Regions from separate parts of the Homo sapiens genome. Here regions 2 and 3 are each reported to be linked to region 1. The links are microRNA targets in miRTarBase. Many come from high-throughput screens and were not tested one by one. Region 1 holds a microRNA gene; each other region holds the end of a gene's coding sequence.

Region 1 (4,086 bases):
TCATCCGGGTAGTAGTTGGCAAGTGTTGGAATGGTTCTTGGAGAGTTGAAAGGGAGCTGGGGGTGGGCACAGCCAAGCCTATGGGGAGCATGTGCTGGTCAGCTGGCATGGGGCAGGCCCAGGTAGGACAGTGGATGGTTGGCCTGAAAGGGTGTCAAGTCCTCCATTTGTTCAGCTTTGAATCCCCACTTGGAGTATCTCCTTTTTATCCTATATTCTCCATAGCATCTCAGCACAGAGGGACCCCCAAGTGGGAGCCCCATCAGTATAAATGAATGAGTCTGGAACAGTGGCCCAGAAAGACAGGGTTAGCAGCACCTGGCAGGGAGAGAAGGAACAAGATAGGAATGGACTGAGGTTACAGCTGGCAGCTGGGGCCCCTAAGGACTCACTCAGCTTCTCCCTTCTTCCAGGTGGACATGATCTCACTAGCCAAGCAGATCATCGAAGCCACACCGGAGCGGATTAAACGAGAGGACTTCGTGGGGCTGCCCGAGGCTGGAGCCTCAATGCGGGAGCGGACAGGGGCTGTGGGGCTCAGTGAGACCATGTCCTGGCTGGCCAGCTACCTGGAGAATGTGGACCATTTCCCCAGCTCAACCCCTCCCAGGTGACTAGCTCAGGACAAAGCCTCCAGATTCTTCAAAGGAAGATGGGAGGAAGGGAGAAAGCTGGCTTTCCCACAGCCAAAGCTCCATTCTGGCTGAGGCCCCAGGGCCTTGGAGAAGCGAACTGAACTGGCTGATGAACTCTGAAGTCACTCTCCAGACTCAGTTGCTGGTGGTTTTCCTTCGTAGCCATCCATAGGTGGCAGAGGAGGGACTTCAGATGCTTCATGACACCCTCTTTCCCTACCGCCTACAGCGAACTGCCCTTTGAGCGAGGTCGCCTGGCTGTCCCTTCAGCACCCTCCTGGGCAGAGTTTCTCTCTGCATCCACCAGTGGCAAGATGGAAAGTGATTTTGCCCTGCTGACACTATCAGATCACGAGCAGCGGGAACTGTATGAGGCTGCCCGAGTCATCCAGACGGCCTTCCGAAAGTACAAGGTCAGGGGCAGGGGTCTCAGGATGAATTACACAATCTCCAGTCAGGGGAGACTGGGCTCCCAGGGCTTTTGGAGGATGAGTAGTCGTGCAGACAGGCCTTGGATGGGGTAAAGGGTCAGGGGAACCCCAGGAAAGTTGAAGGGACAAGTCAGATATGCCATTATGTGGGTCATGAGGTGGTGAGACTTCTCTCCCTTCAGGGCCGGCGGCTGAAGGAGCAGCAGGAGGTAGCAGCAGCTGTAATCCAGCGCTGTTACCGGAAGTACAAGCAGGTGAGACCCTTCTCCCTCAAAAGTGTAACCAGCAACCCACCAACCCACACCCACGCCTAACCATTCCAGAATGTTGCCAGAGCCCTAACTCCCCTTCTCTCTCCACAAGCTGACCTGGATTGCACTTAAGGTATTAGGCATGAGCTCTGAGTGTGAGGTCTGTGATGATTCAGTCTTTCCTTGAGTGTGTGGGTTACAGAGAGTCTTGCATCAGCCTAACTTGGGTGAGCCTCAGGGCTTTGGGTCTCCGTCCCTCTATTTCAGCCCCTGTCCCTCCTCCCCACCCCTGCAGTTTGCACTCTATAAGAAGATGACCCAGGCGGCCATCCTGATCCAGAGCAAGTTCCGAAGCTACTATGAACAGAAGCGATTTCAGCAGAGCCGCCGAGCGGCTGTGCTCATCCAGCAGCACTACCGCTCCTACCGCCGCAGGCCCGGCCCTCCCCACCGGACTTCGGCCACCCTGCCTGCCCGCAACAAGTAGGGCCCAGCCCCAGCCCTCTGTGCCCACCCACTGCATCCACGCCATTCCCCCTTACTCATCCTCTTGATCATCATGCCTCACTGCCATTCCCTGCCTAGGGTTCCTGGGGGGGCCGAAGGCATGCGATGCCTTCTGTGAGGTCCATCTTTTGTTTCTTTCACCAGAGGCTCCTTTCTCACCAAGAAGCAGGACCAGGCAGCCCGGAAGATCATGAGATTCCTGCGGCGCTGCCGACACAGGTACTCATCCCTTCTCCCCCTGGGCTTTTGCGTTGCCACCCGTCGTGATCCGCCAGTCTCCTCTGACTCCTATCTTTCTCTCTGCAGGATGAGGGAACTGAAGCAGAACCAGGAGCTGGAAGGGCTTCCCCAGCCGGGACTGGCCACATGACCTGGCCACCGCCTTTCTCACCACCCTGGGGGCGCCTCGTGCAGTCTTAACAGGGAGAGGGCTTTCTGGGGCAGGGGGAGCCCCTGTCGGCAGCTTTCCTGTTCACCTTTGTTGGAGCCCTCTGTAGGCCTCCTCCCTCCTCCCCACGCCTTGCTCCCACACCCCTCTCCTCGTCCCTCCTGGTCGTGCCCCGTCTCTTTTGGTCCTGGCTCCAGAAAACCCGCGCCCCACATACCTGCATCTTCCGCTGTGACCTCCGGAGCCCTGCCTGCCCCTGCTCCCCAGCTCCTCCTGCCTGCACCCGACTCGGCCCCCTCCTGACTTGCCTTATTTATTTGTTCGACGCGTCTCTGAATGTATCCGCCTCGGTTCCCACCACTGCCTTCGCTGCGCACGCCCCTCGTGTTTCAGGGCTGACCGTGTCCCCACCCGACTCCGCATGTTTGCGTCTGTTTCCTCCCTCTCTGGCCCTGTCTTACCCCATCACCCGACTCTGGCCACTGACCTCAGGGCCGAAGGGGAGGTGGTGTACATAGGAACGCGTTGCGGAGTCCGCCCCGTCCCCCGAGGGGAGGGGTCTTGTACATACTGTAACATACAGAGTATAGTGAAGAATCTATTTAAGGCGCCGCGGGGAGGGCTGCACGGCCGGGCTTGTGGTTCTCTAGCGCGGCGGGGGCCTCCTGCCGGCTCCACGGGCACTTTCTACTTGTGCATGGGCTTGGTTTATACGAATTGCCATTAAACATCGCTGCACCAGCCAGCCTCCGGCCTCTGTCTGCGGGGGCGGGGCGGGGCCTAGGCCAGCTGGAGGCCGCCATGCACCGCGGGCCTGGGATCTGCGCCCAGGCCAGGCGGGCCCAGGGTTTTCCGCCTCCGACGTGTTTCCGGCCTTAAAGGCATTCCGCCCTTCCCTTTAAGACGCACCGCCCCCTCTCAGTCACTCCCAAGATGGCGGACCTACTGGGCTCCATCCTGAGCTCCATGGAGAAGCCACCCAGCCTCGGTGACCAGGAGACTCGGCGCAAGGCCCGAGGTGAGGATCCCAAATTCACAACCGCCTTCCTTCGCCCGGTTCTCGGGACCATACTTCTCCCTCTTTGGACGATGCCGCCTCCTCAACCTTGAAAGACCCCTCACAGGCCCCTTCCGAGACCCTCAGAGTCCCTAAAAGGGCTGCTGACACGCCCGCTGTTCTTAGCGGACAGTGATTGGCTACCTGAAAGATAGCGCCAGCCTCCTGCCTCTTCTCCCGACCCTGGCCTTCCGCAGTCCTTGTTTCCCATTAGCCGGCCGTCCCGCCTGTCCGCTGCTGACCTGGTCTGATTGGTAGGGTGCCTCCAACCTGCCGCATTCCTGCCCCGCTCACCTCTAGCTCTATTTCGATTGGATTTAGGACACGCCATCTACTGTGCCTTCATCTCTATTGGCTATCTCAACTTAAAGCTCTGCCTCCTCAGGCCTGTTCGACCTTCCTTCGAAACCACCCCAGCCTGCGAATTCCCATTGGTTGCAGGGTCCTCTGTGTGTTCTTGCCCCTCCTGCTTAATTTAACCCAGTCCCTTCTGCCTCCCTCCGACAACCTTTTTCCCATCCGTAGCCTTAAATTCCCGAGCTGCCCGGGCGGATCGTAGTGTTGATTGGAGGGATGAGAATACCCGCCGGGTCCGATTGGCCACTGTCTCCGCCTGCGTTCTCGGAGTAGCTTCCCTGCGGGTGGGCTGGAGTTCGGCGGCCGGCGTAGGGCGCGGCCCTGCAGGGCGGTGGGAGCCTCCCCGGGGCTGCTCGTGTTGCAGCTTGGGATGATACTGGCGGAACGCAGGACCCCAACTCCCAAACCTGCGGACCTTGACCACGGACGAGCCCTGTCCCAGCTCCCCACGTGCCCCAGG
Region 2 (4,086 bases), not on the chromosome of region 1:
CCTCTTTCTAGCTGCTCCCATGTTTCCTGCCCTGATTGTCAAGGTAGCTTCACTCCCAGTTTAAGTATCTCTTTTTTCAGTGAAATGTTCAGCCCTCACCTACCCAGTGTGCTCCTAGAACAACTTCTCCTAGGTCTTTCTTTTTTTTTCTTGAGACGGAGTCTTTAAAAGAGCAGATTGCAAGGCGTAAATTCCGGCCAGACACAGTGGTTCACACCTGTAATCCCAGCACTTTGGGAGGCCAAGGCAGGTGGATCACTTGAGGTTGGGAGTTTGAGACCAGCCTGGCTAACATGGCGAAACCCATCTCTACTAAAAATACAAAATTAGCCAGGTGTGGTGGCATGCACCTGTAATCGCAGCTACTCTGGAGGCTGAGGCAGGAGAATCACTTAGAACACAGGAGGCGGAGGTTGCAGTGAGCTGAGATCATGCCAGCCTGGGCTACAGAGCAAGAATGTGTTTCAAAAACAAACAACAAAAAACAAAGAGCAGTAAAGAGAGGCAGAATCTATTAATAATAGAGCAAACATGAAGGTAACAGTCCAGTGCCAAATGAAATCTTCTCAATTGGAGAGCCTCTGAAATCTAAGTGAAACAGTCTTTTTTGGGGGACAGATCAACAGTGATTGGATCTCTCTACTTACTAAACGTTTCTATTTTTTAGGTATCGAATGATAACAGAAGGCGGAGTCAGCATAAATCACCAACAAGTAACAAATCCTGAGAGTGTTTTAATTGTTGGACAACATATTCTCAAGAATGGACTTTCCTTACTTAAAATAGGAAAAAGAAATTTCTACATTATAAAATGGCTTCAGTTGTGATGAAAAGTCCTTCTGGTTGTCCAAATAAACTTACCCATCATTCATTCTCAAGACCTCTGAAGGGTTGGCTCCAGAACTTAGACCTTTGCTTATGCAAATCAGAAAAACAGAATGGACTAGGACTCAGTGTGAGTAACTTCATTATTTTTATGGGCCGGTTAATAAATATTTGTTTAATAATGGGATGTTTTATTTTCTGATGTACAAAGCTTGATTACCATAGAAAACCATGATTTTCAGGGTTAATCTCTTTTTAAAATTATACTTCAGAAGAGAAAGAAATGCTGCTTTCCTATCTTACCCTTCCTGCTCTCCTTTTTGTAGTGATGAGGAACAATGAAAAAGAGGTAGTGTAAGGAATTGTGAGGCTGGGCATGGTGGCTCACACCTGTAATCCCAGCACTTCGGGAGGCCAAGGTGGGCAAATCGCTTGAGGCCAGGAGTTTGAGACCAGCCTGGCCAACAGGGCGAAACCCCGTCTCTACTGAAAATATAAAAATTAGCCAGATGTGGTTGCAGGCACCTGTAACCCCAGCTACTCAAGAGGCTGAGCTGCGAGAATCACTTGAACCCAGGAGATGGAGGTTGCAGTGAGCTGAGATCACGCCACTGCACTCCAGCCTGGGAGACAGCATGAGTAGTGAGTGAAACTCTGTCTCAAAAAAAAAAAAAAAAAAAAGGAATTGTAGCTGCTTTTCTATCAGGTATGGAGCACCGATGTCACTAATGTTATATAGTTGTTTATAAAATCATCAGGGCCTCTAGTGTCCACATTAGAAATGGGAAAACTAGTATTAGAAACTTTGAATAGAAATTTGATTTTTTTGTAGTTCAGAGAGCAAATGTAGTTCTTAAAAAGGAGAAAAAGTTAGATGAGGCCATGGTTGCTTTGAGAAATTACAGTAAGTAGTTTCTTTACAAATAATAGTACAAAAATCAGTACGTGACTTTTCAGAAAGTTTCTAATTCAGTTTTCTGGTTCCTTGCCTGTGTTCCAGTATAATTCTGTTCACATTAAGCCTTGTTGTCAGTGGATTCCTAAGGTAGCAATGTTTTATAAATTTAGAAACTTAAATTGGTTTTAAGTTTCAGCTTTTCCCCCCAAGCAGATTGCAACTTGAGGTAAATTAAAAAGTTAACCCCCCAAAAATAAAGCCAATTATACCAAATATGCAATCATATGAGAATATCAAAAAGTATCCAGGTAAGGAAAGTTTTCAGGTCAAACTTAAAGGATTTGGAATCAAGACTGAGTTCAGCTCTTCAAACATGAGGCAAATTAATTCTCCAGAACTATTTCCATATCTGAAAAATCAAGGCAATGGCATCCCTGTTGCCTTGAGGATCAAGTGAATCACATACGAAATGATTAATCAGATTTCTTTTGAAAACCTTACAGGCAGCAGAGCATGGCTTTAGTGTTCAAATTCTAGCCATTTACTACCTGGATTACTTGGAGCAAGTCACTGTCTTCATACGCAAAAATGGAGATGTTATAATACCTTGGTGAACTGTCAGAATCTGGTAGGAAAAAAGTCGTAAAATTTTTCGTACTCTATACGGTTATGTTCCAAAGTAGATTAGGTATTAAAAAGCTCCTTTTGTCTCCCTTTCTCTGGGAGAAAAGTTAAGAATTCATTTTTTGACAAACTTTAGTGTCATTTCATACCAGCAATTTTATTTACACAATAAGAACATACAGGTATCGTCAGAGATCATCTCTACATTTCAGATCTTGACTCAGTTTAAGGGCCAACAAAGGAAGGCTTTTCTCTTTCCGTTGTTTCTTGCCTCTGTTTTTTGTTGTACAAAGTGTGTAGTACTAGCAAGTGCATTACCATAGCATGTCTTTAATTTTCAATTTGAAATCTGATGTGCTGGAGAAAAGTGCATCGTAAGTTTTTGTTTTTGTTTTTTTTCCCCTTACAAATTCAAAGGACTAGAATAATGATAGTCATCTGGAAAAAGTAAATCATGAATGGCTATAATTTTGAAACTGATGCTTAATGATGGCAGTGATTTTTAAGTGTGGTAACAAACGTTTTGGGAGCATGTATCCTCTGTCAAGATGGTACTAGTAACAGATTCAAAGTAGTACCATATCGTATCAGACTGATGTGGGGGTTTTTATGTTTGACATCAGTTGGTGAGCCTGTTGTTCCTTAGTAAATTGATGCCATAAGCTAAAGTTAACATATTCATATTTTCCCTGCCAATAGTCCTTCATAAATACCTGGTCATAAACTGAAAAAAAAGTAATATCTGCAATATAAATGTGTTGTCTATTAGAGACGGGGCTAGATGTCTTAAGGATTTCTAAGTACATCTTAAAATTTATAATATAGTCGTTCATACCAAGAATCATCTGGGGAATTTTAACAAAATATGTATATGTTCTAAACCTCATCACTACCCCATAAATGCAGCTTAGGTCTGTAAGTCTGAAGGAGTATGTGTATCTATCTGGGTGTTGTTTTATTTTTTTTTTTTGAGACGGAGTTTCGCTCTTGTTGCCAAGGCTGGAGTGCAATGGCACGATCTTAGCTCACCACAACCTCCACCTCCCAGGGTCAAGCAATTCTCCTGCCTCACCCTCCCGAGTAGCTGGGATTACAGGCATGCGCCACCACGCCCGGCCAATTTTGTATTTTTAGTAGAGACGGGGTTTCTCCATGTTGGTCAAGCTGGTCTCCAACTCCCAACCTCAGGTGATCCACCTGCCTCGGCCTCCCAAAGTGCTGGGATTACAGGCGTGTGCCACCACGCCCAGCCTTGGGTGTTTTTCTTTCAGCTCCTCCAGTACTTTCATACTATTCTAATAAATATATTTTGTTGGTATGAAGCTATGAAGCAAAAGTAGCTATTACCAATGCATACATACAGTACACTGGTTTTAAGTTCCACCTCAAAGTGAATCTTAGAGCCTGGTGTAAGTGCTCCACTTTAGAGATGTACCTTAATTACTACTGTATTTGCAAATTAAGGGAAATTTAGGTCATCATTTGATTTTCTGAAATCTAAAAGGAACTGACCATCATTACCAAGTCTTTCTAGATAATCAAGGGTAGATGGCTGTTTTTAATGTAGGAATTAATGTAGGCATTCCTGCTTTCAGGTTTAAGTATGAATCAAAGCATATTTTAATTTGCTAGTGCAAATGGACCCAGAATTGGAAGGGCTATGTAACTACACAGTATGCACACCACAGCCATGTCAGTGTCACAGATCCTCTTGTGCATTCAGCTTTCTTAAAAACACA
Region 3 (4,086 bases), not on the chromosome of region 1:
TGAGAAAGGAAGAGACGGAGGAGTTTCCCTTAGATTAAATGACCTCCTTCACCCTATCCAAGAACACTTTATGTAAGAAAAGCACAGTCATTCTTTTTGGTGGCCTTCTGTTGTGTCACCGCTGGGTCAGAGCCACACCACTCTTTAGAAAAACCCAGGGGCAGCTTCAAAGGCCAGCTTCAAAGGTGTGCAAACAGTGTGATCCCAGGAAATCCCATGCTCAGAAGGGCCCAACACTTGGTTTAATACTTTGCTCTTGCACTCGAAATTTTCAATACTTTTTGAACCAAGACTCCACATTTTTATTTCTTACTGGATCTCACAAATTATGTAACCAGTTGTGCCCAGAAGTTGTTTTTGGTTGCCTAAAATATAATTTCAAAACAAGCACTATTTAAGTTACAGTAACAAATCCACTACCCAGCCCAGTCAGATAGACCTTGCTGATTGAAACTTTCAACGCTGACCTCTGAATCCAAATGTACTTATTGTTCCACAGGTACTGGAAAAACAAACATTTGTCACCTAAACGGCTGAGCACAGGTATTCTTATGTACACCCTTGCATCAGCAATATGTGAAGAGATCCACTTGTATGGATTTTGGCCGTTTGGATTTGACCCCAACACAAGGGAAGATCTTCCATACCATTACTATGACAAAAAAGGAACCAAATTTACCACCAAGTGGCAGGAGTCCCACCAGCTGCCTGCTGAGTTTCAGCTGCTGTACCGAATGCATGGGGAAGGGCTCACCAAGCTGACTCTGTCACACTGTGCCTAAGAACTCCAAACGGAAAGCGCCAAATGGCTGTTTAAAAAGTGCCCCAAATCAAATTGAATAGCCTTCAGAATAGAACCCTAGAGAATGTCTTATAAGGATTGTCTGCCATTTAAAAGGAAAGATGTCTTTTCTCTTTTGCACTGCTCTTTTAAGAGTTTTAGCAGATTTAGCAGGACAGATGCATTGAAGCCACATGGTTTAGACTTGATTGATAAAGGGAATGTTGCATTTGGGACTATGCTGCTAACGAAATGGTTTGAAGTATTTTCATGTTTGGATTTTAATAATAAACTGCCTCTCATTTTTATGAGGACTAGAGCTATAGTTTCTGCAGCTCTGCTCAGATAGTCCTCATAATCAGAGGCCTCTGGCCAACTGGGGCAGGACCTGTTTTGCTGGTGGGATCAGACTCTGAAAAATGGAAACGTAAAAAACTGGTTTGCATATCTCATCTTCTATCTATCTCCCTATCTCCATCTCTATCACCATCTCACTCCTTCCCTCTGCAACTACTCCCTGCCCTACCACCGTGGAGTTTAATAATTTGCTAGGAATCCTATTGAATTCGCTTTGCTTGTATATGTTGCATTTGTACTTGATGTGTTTAAGGTTCTGGGTAACTTTGATGCTTCATGACAAAATAGGCAAATCACGATGGACTCCCTTGTGATTCCTTTTTTAAAGAAATGCCTCTGATGCAGTCCTCACCAGTCCATTCAGTCATTCTACAGCAAGATGGTCCCTCTGTGGTGAGTGGGATATAAGGCAGTGCATCTTTCATGATCACAAAGAAAGCCTATGTTGTGGATAGCATTGCGTCTCTTGATGTAGGCATTGTTATGGCAAATAATAGCACTGTGGCCACATCTGTAAGGCCATTCCAGCCTAAATTTAGTGTCTCCCATAATCCCAACCCATGCACTAGGCTGGGTGTTCTCTCAGAATATAGAGGCAATGAATCAGCTTAAGACCCTGGGACACACAAAGGAAAAGGAAGAAGAATATTTAGAAGTTGTTATGGAATCCTGTGTACCCTAAAGTGTGGTAACCATGTTACCCATTCCAGCTGGGTTAAAGTGGAGGAGGATCTTGGCCAGGCCAGGTGCCCAGGTGACTAGTGCTGAGGTGCGATCGTTTTCCGTATCATTGTGTGCACCACCACCAATCCAGAACCATTTGCTCTCTTTGAGAACATTGTAGCACTGGATATTCCCTCTTTCCACTGAAGTCAGATCTATACAACTACAAATTAAGCATTTCAAAAGAAAAAGCCATTGTGCAGTGGCAAGAGTTGGAATCCAAGATTATGTAGACCTGCGATGAAGGAAGTAGCTGGCCATTCTCATTTTCTTTATTTCAGCCATATGAGTAGAAATCAAATCATTCCCATCCCTGGCTTTTTACTGAGCAGCACTTTGTTCTTCCAATTCAGCCCAACGTCTGGCCAAGTTGATGTTAAATTTTAATAAGAGTTTCTTTCTTCTTTCCAAATGCCAGTCAAGCATATTTGTTATGCATTTGAGTGGGGTAGCTCATTCTTTTCCTGAAATCTCATCTAGATTGCTTGCAATGCGACAAATAACTGTTTAAAAAATGTGCTGTAGTTCAGTGATGAGCTCATTGCCCCTCTTTAGGAAGGTAAGATCATGCCTAAAATTAAACCGAATATGGTAAGGAAAGACACTATCGTTATGCTCACGTTCTGCCTGGTCCTAAACCTGCCTTATTATTATTTTCAGAAAGCAATCTAATTAGAGCAACTTGCATAGATCTAGATATTAACTAATGAAAGAAACACCAAGTTCAAATGTGTTACCAATTATGACACACATTACAATATAATTATAAGGGGAGACATTAAAAACATTTTGTAATTCAGTGGTATAATTTGATGGGTATCACAACCACACCGTGTTTGTTCCCTGTCCCTTTGAAGAGGACTGTACTACCATCCTCACACTGTGCTCTGTTGGGATCACTGAGAGATTGACAACTGACAGAAGTGTTTAGTTGGCTGTTCCTGAGCACTTAGTTCATTTGGTTATAGCTAAGTGATATTAATGCCAATATTACTTGGGCCAGATTCTGACTCTGGAGTTTTAATCCCAATGTGCCCATTCATTTTCACTAAATATAAATGCATAGACACTTTAAACCAAGAAGATTAAAAGAGGAAAAGACCAGAATCTCTAAAAAACAGTTTACTGTTCTGTAGTGGACAATTTAAATTTTATCTCATCATAATGCCAAGGATTTTTGTTTGTTTTTTAAGTTCAGGGAGATTTTTTAAATCTCCTTGCAGTCTTGGCTCCATCTTAACCTTAGAGTGGGAGGACTTTCCCATCCCCCACCACCGTGTTATCTATCACTTTAATGAAAACTCAAAATAGTGAGGAAATGGACTTTTCTTCAGAACTTGAGGGGTTTAGAGATCAGGCTCATCTCTGCTTATAAGGAGGACTTCCTGGAGATGATCCCAATAGATCACCCTTCACTTTTGAAGAATAGCAGCTTCTAGCTGACCATGCAAAATCTCTGTTTGTTTTTAAAGACTGTTTCAAAGATTAAATCTATACAACCACTTTTATGACCAAAAAAGTTGTTGTGTCCCAAGTGTCCTAATTAGAAAGGCAGCTGGCTCTCCTGCAGCTCCCAGGCTTGTGTAGTCAAGTGCAGTGAACTGGGCAGTAATCAGCTCAGGACCATTGGCTCTTTCCTCCTCTTTCAGCTACAGACACATGCCCTGGCTTTTGCATTGACCTTGCTTTGTTAGTTCTAGACTAATTTATCCTTTTGTCAGACACTTTCCCTTTTTTAGGATACTCACAACAGAGTCCACTTTCAGCTATTGGAATACATTTTACCATAAAGCCCCCAAGGCTTTCTACCCATAACACCAACACAAAAAACCAATTAAGTTGCAGAGGGGGGAAATAATCACAAACTTTTGGCAACCTGCTTAATGCTAGACGCTCTGTTTTCACTGGTTATTCTGAGTGTCATATGCAGATGCAGATCCAAGGGAGACAGGGCTAAATGGTGGTGTCAAGAATTCCTCCCACACCCCAAAAATTCTTTCCAATATTTGATTATTAAAATATCTATCATTTCTCCACCTTGTGTCTGTGTCTTAAGTGTCTGTGAATATTGTAAAAGTGCTGTATGTTTAGTAGTGTTGTGTGCCTGGCAGTGCTGACTATGACTACTGTGCCATCTGTCTGTGACCTTGATGTCAGGTACCTGGCCATGGGGCTACCAGCAAGGATGTGCAAAGGAAGAACCGCTGCCCCTGCCCTCAGCTTCC

What was found. The annotated mature microRNA hsa-miR-6864-3p reads GUGAGACUUCUCUCCCUUCAG and lies in region 1 at 1,228-1,248, shown strand. An mRNA with a match to its seed (bases 2 to 7 or 8) in the 3' UTR can be bound and repressed. Matches are read on the target gene's strand: a 7mer-m8 pairs with bases 2 to 8, a 7mer-A1 pairs with bases 2 to 7 and ends in A, and an 8mer does both.
Region 2: miRTarBase lists YARS2 as a target of hsa-miR-6864-3p. The part of its 3' UTR that is shown has no 7-base or 8-base seed match.
Region 3: the mRNA of ST8SIA3 is a reported target of hsa-miR-6864-3p. The part of its 3' UTR that is shown has no 7-base or 8-base seed match.

What each region holds. Positions count from the first base shown.
Region 1 is chr17:4,966,864-4,970,949 of GRCh38, reverse strand. MIR6864 (microRNA 6864) reads left to right here and starts at 1,179; the gene lies at 1,179-1,248. It overlaps SPAG7 (sperm associated antigen 7), which reads left to right and starts at 3,133. Exons shown (of 7, transcript NM_004890.3): 1 at 3,133-3,230. The coding sequence starts at 3,146. CAMTA2 (calmodulin binding transcription activator 2) reads left to right here. Exons shown (of 23, transcript NM_015099.4): 17 at 414-610; 18 at 865-1,048; 19 at 1,249-1,320; 20 at 1,430-1,450; 21 at 1,613-1,800; 22 at 1,969-2,043; 23 at 2,131-2,953. The coding sequence ends at 2,194. It overlaps MIR6865 (microRNA 6865), which reads left to right and starts at 800; the gene lies at 800-864. It also overlaps LOC124900387. RefSeq lists enhancers at 1,379-2,055, 889-2,088, 2,056-2,733, 2,734-3,410, 2,998-3,497 and 1 more and a silencer at 2,908-2,987.
Region 2 is chr12:32,743,945-32,748,030 of GRCh38, reverse strand. YARS2 (tyrosyl-tRNA synthetase 2) reads left to right here. Exons shown (of 5, transcript NM_001040436.3): 5 at 668-1,487. The coding sequence ends at 827. It overlaps DNM1L (dynamin 1 like), which reads right to left. Exons shown (of 20, transcript NM_012062.5): 20 at 2,381-4,086. Among named protein-coding and RNA genes, the nearest start is that of YARS2, 9.9 kb to the left of the region's middle.
Region 3 is chr18:57,359,496-57,363,581 of GRCh38, forward strand. ST8SIA3 (ST8 alpha-N-acetyl-neuraminide alpha-2,8-sialyltransferase 3) reads left to right here. Exons shown (of 4, transcript NM_015879.3): 4 at 500-4,086. The coding sequence ends at 782. Among named protein-coding and RNA genes, the nearest start is that of ST8SIA3, 9.0 kb to the left of the region's middle.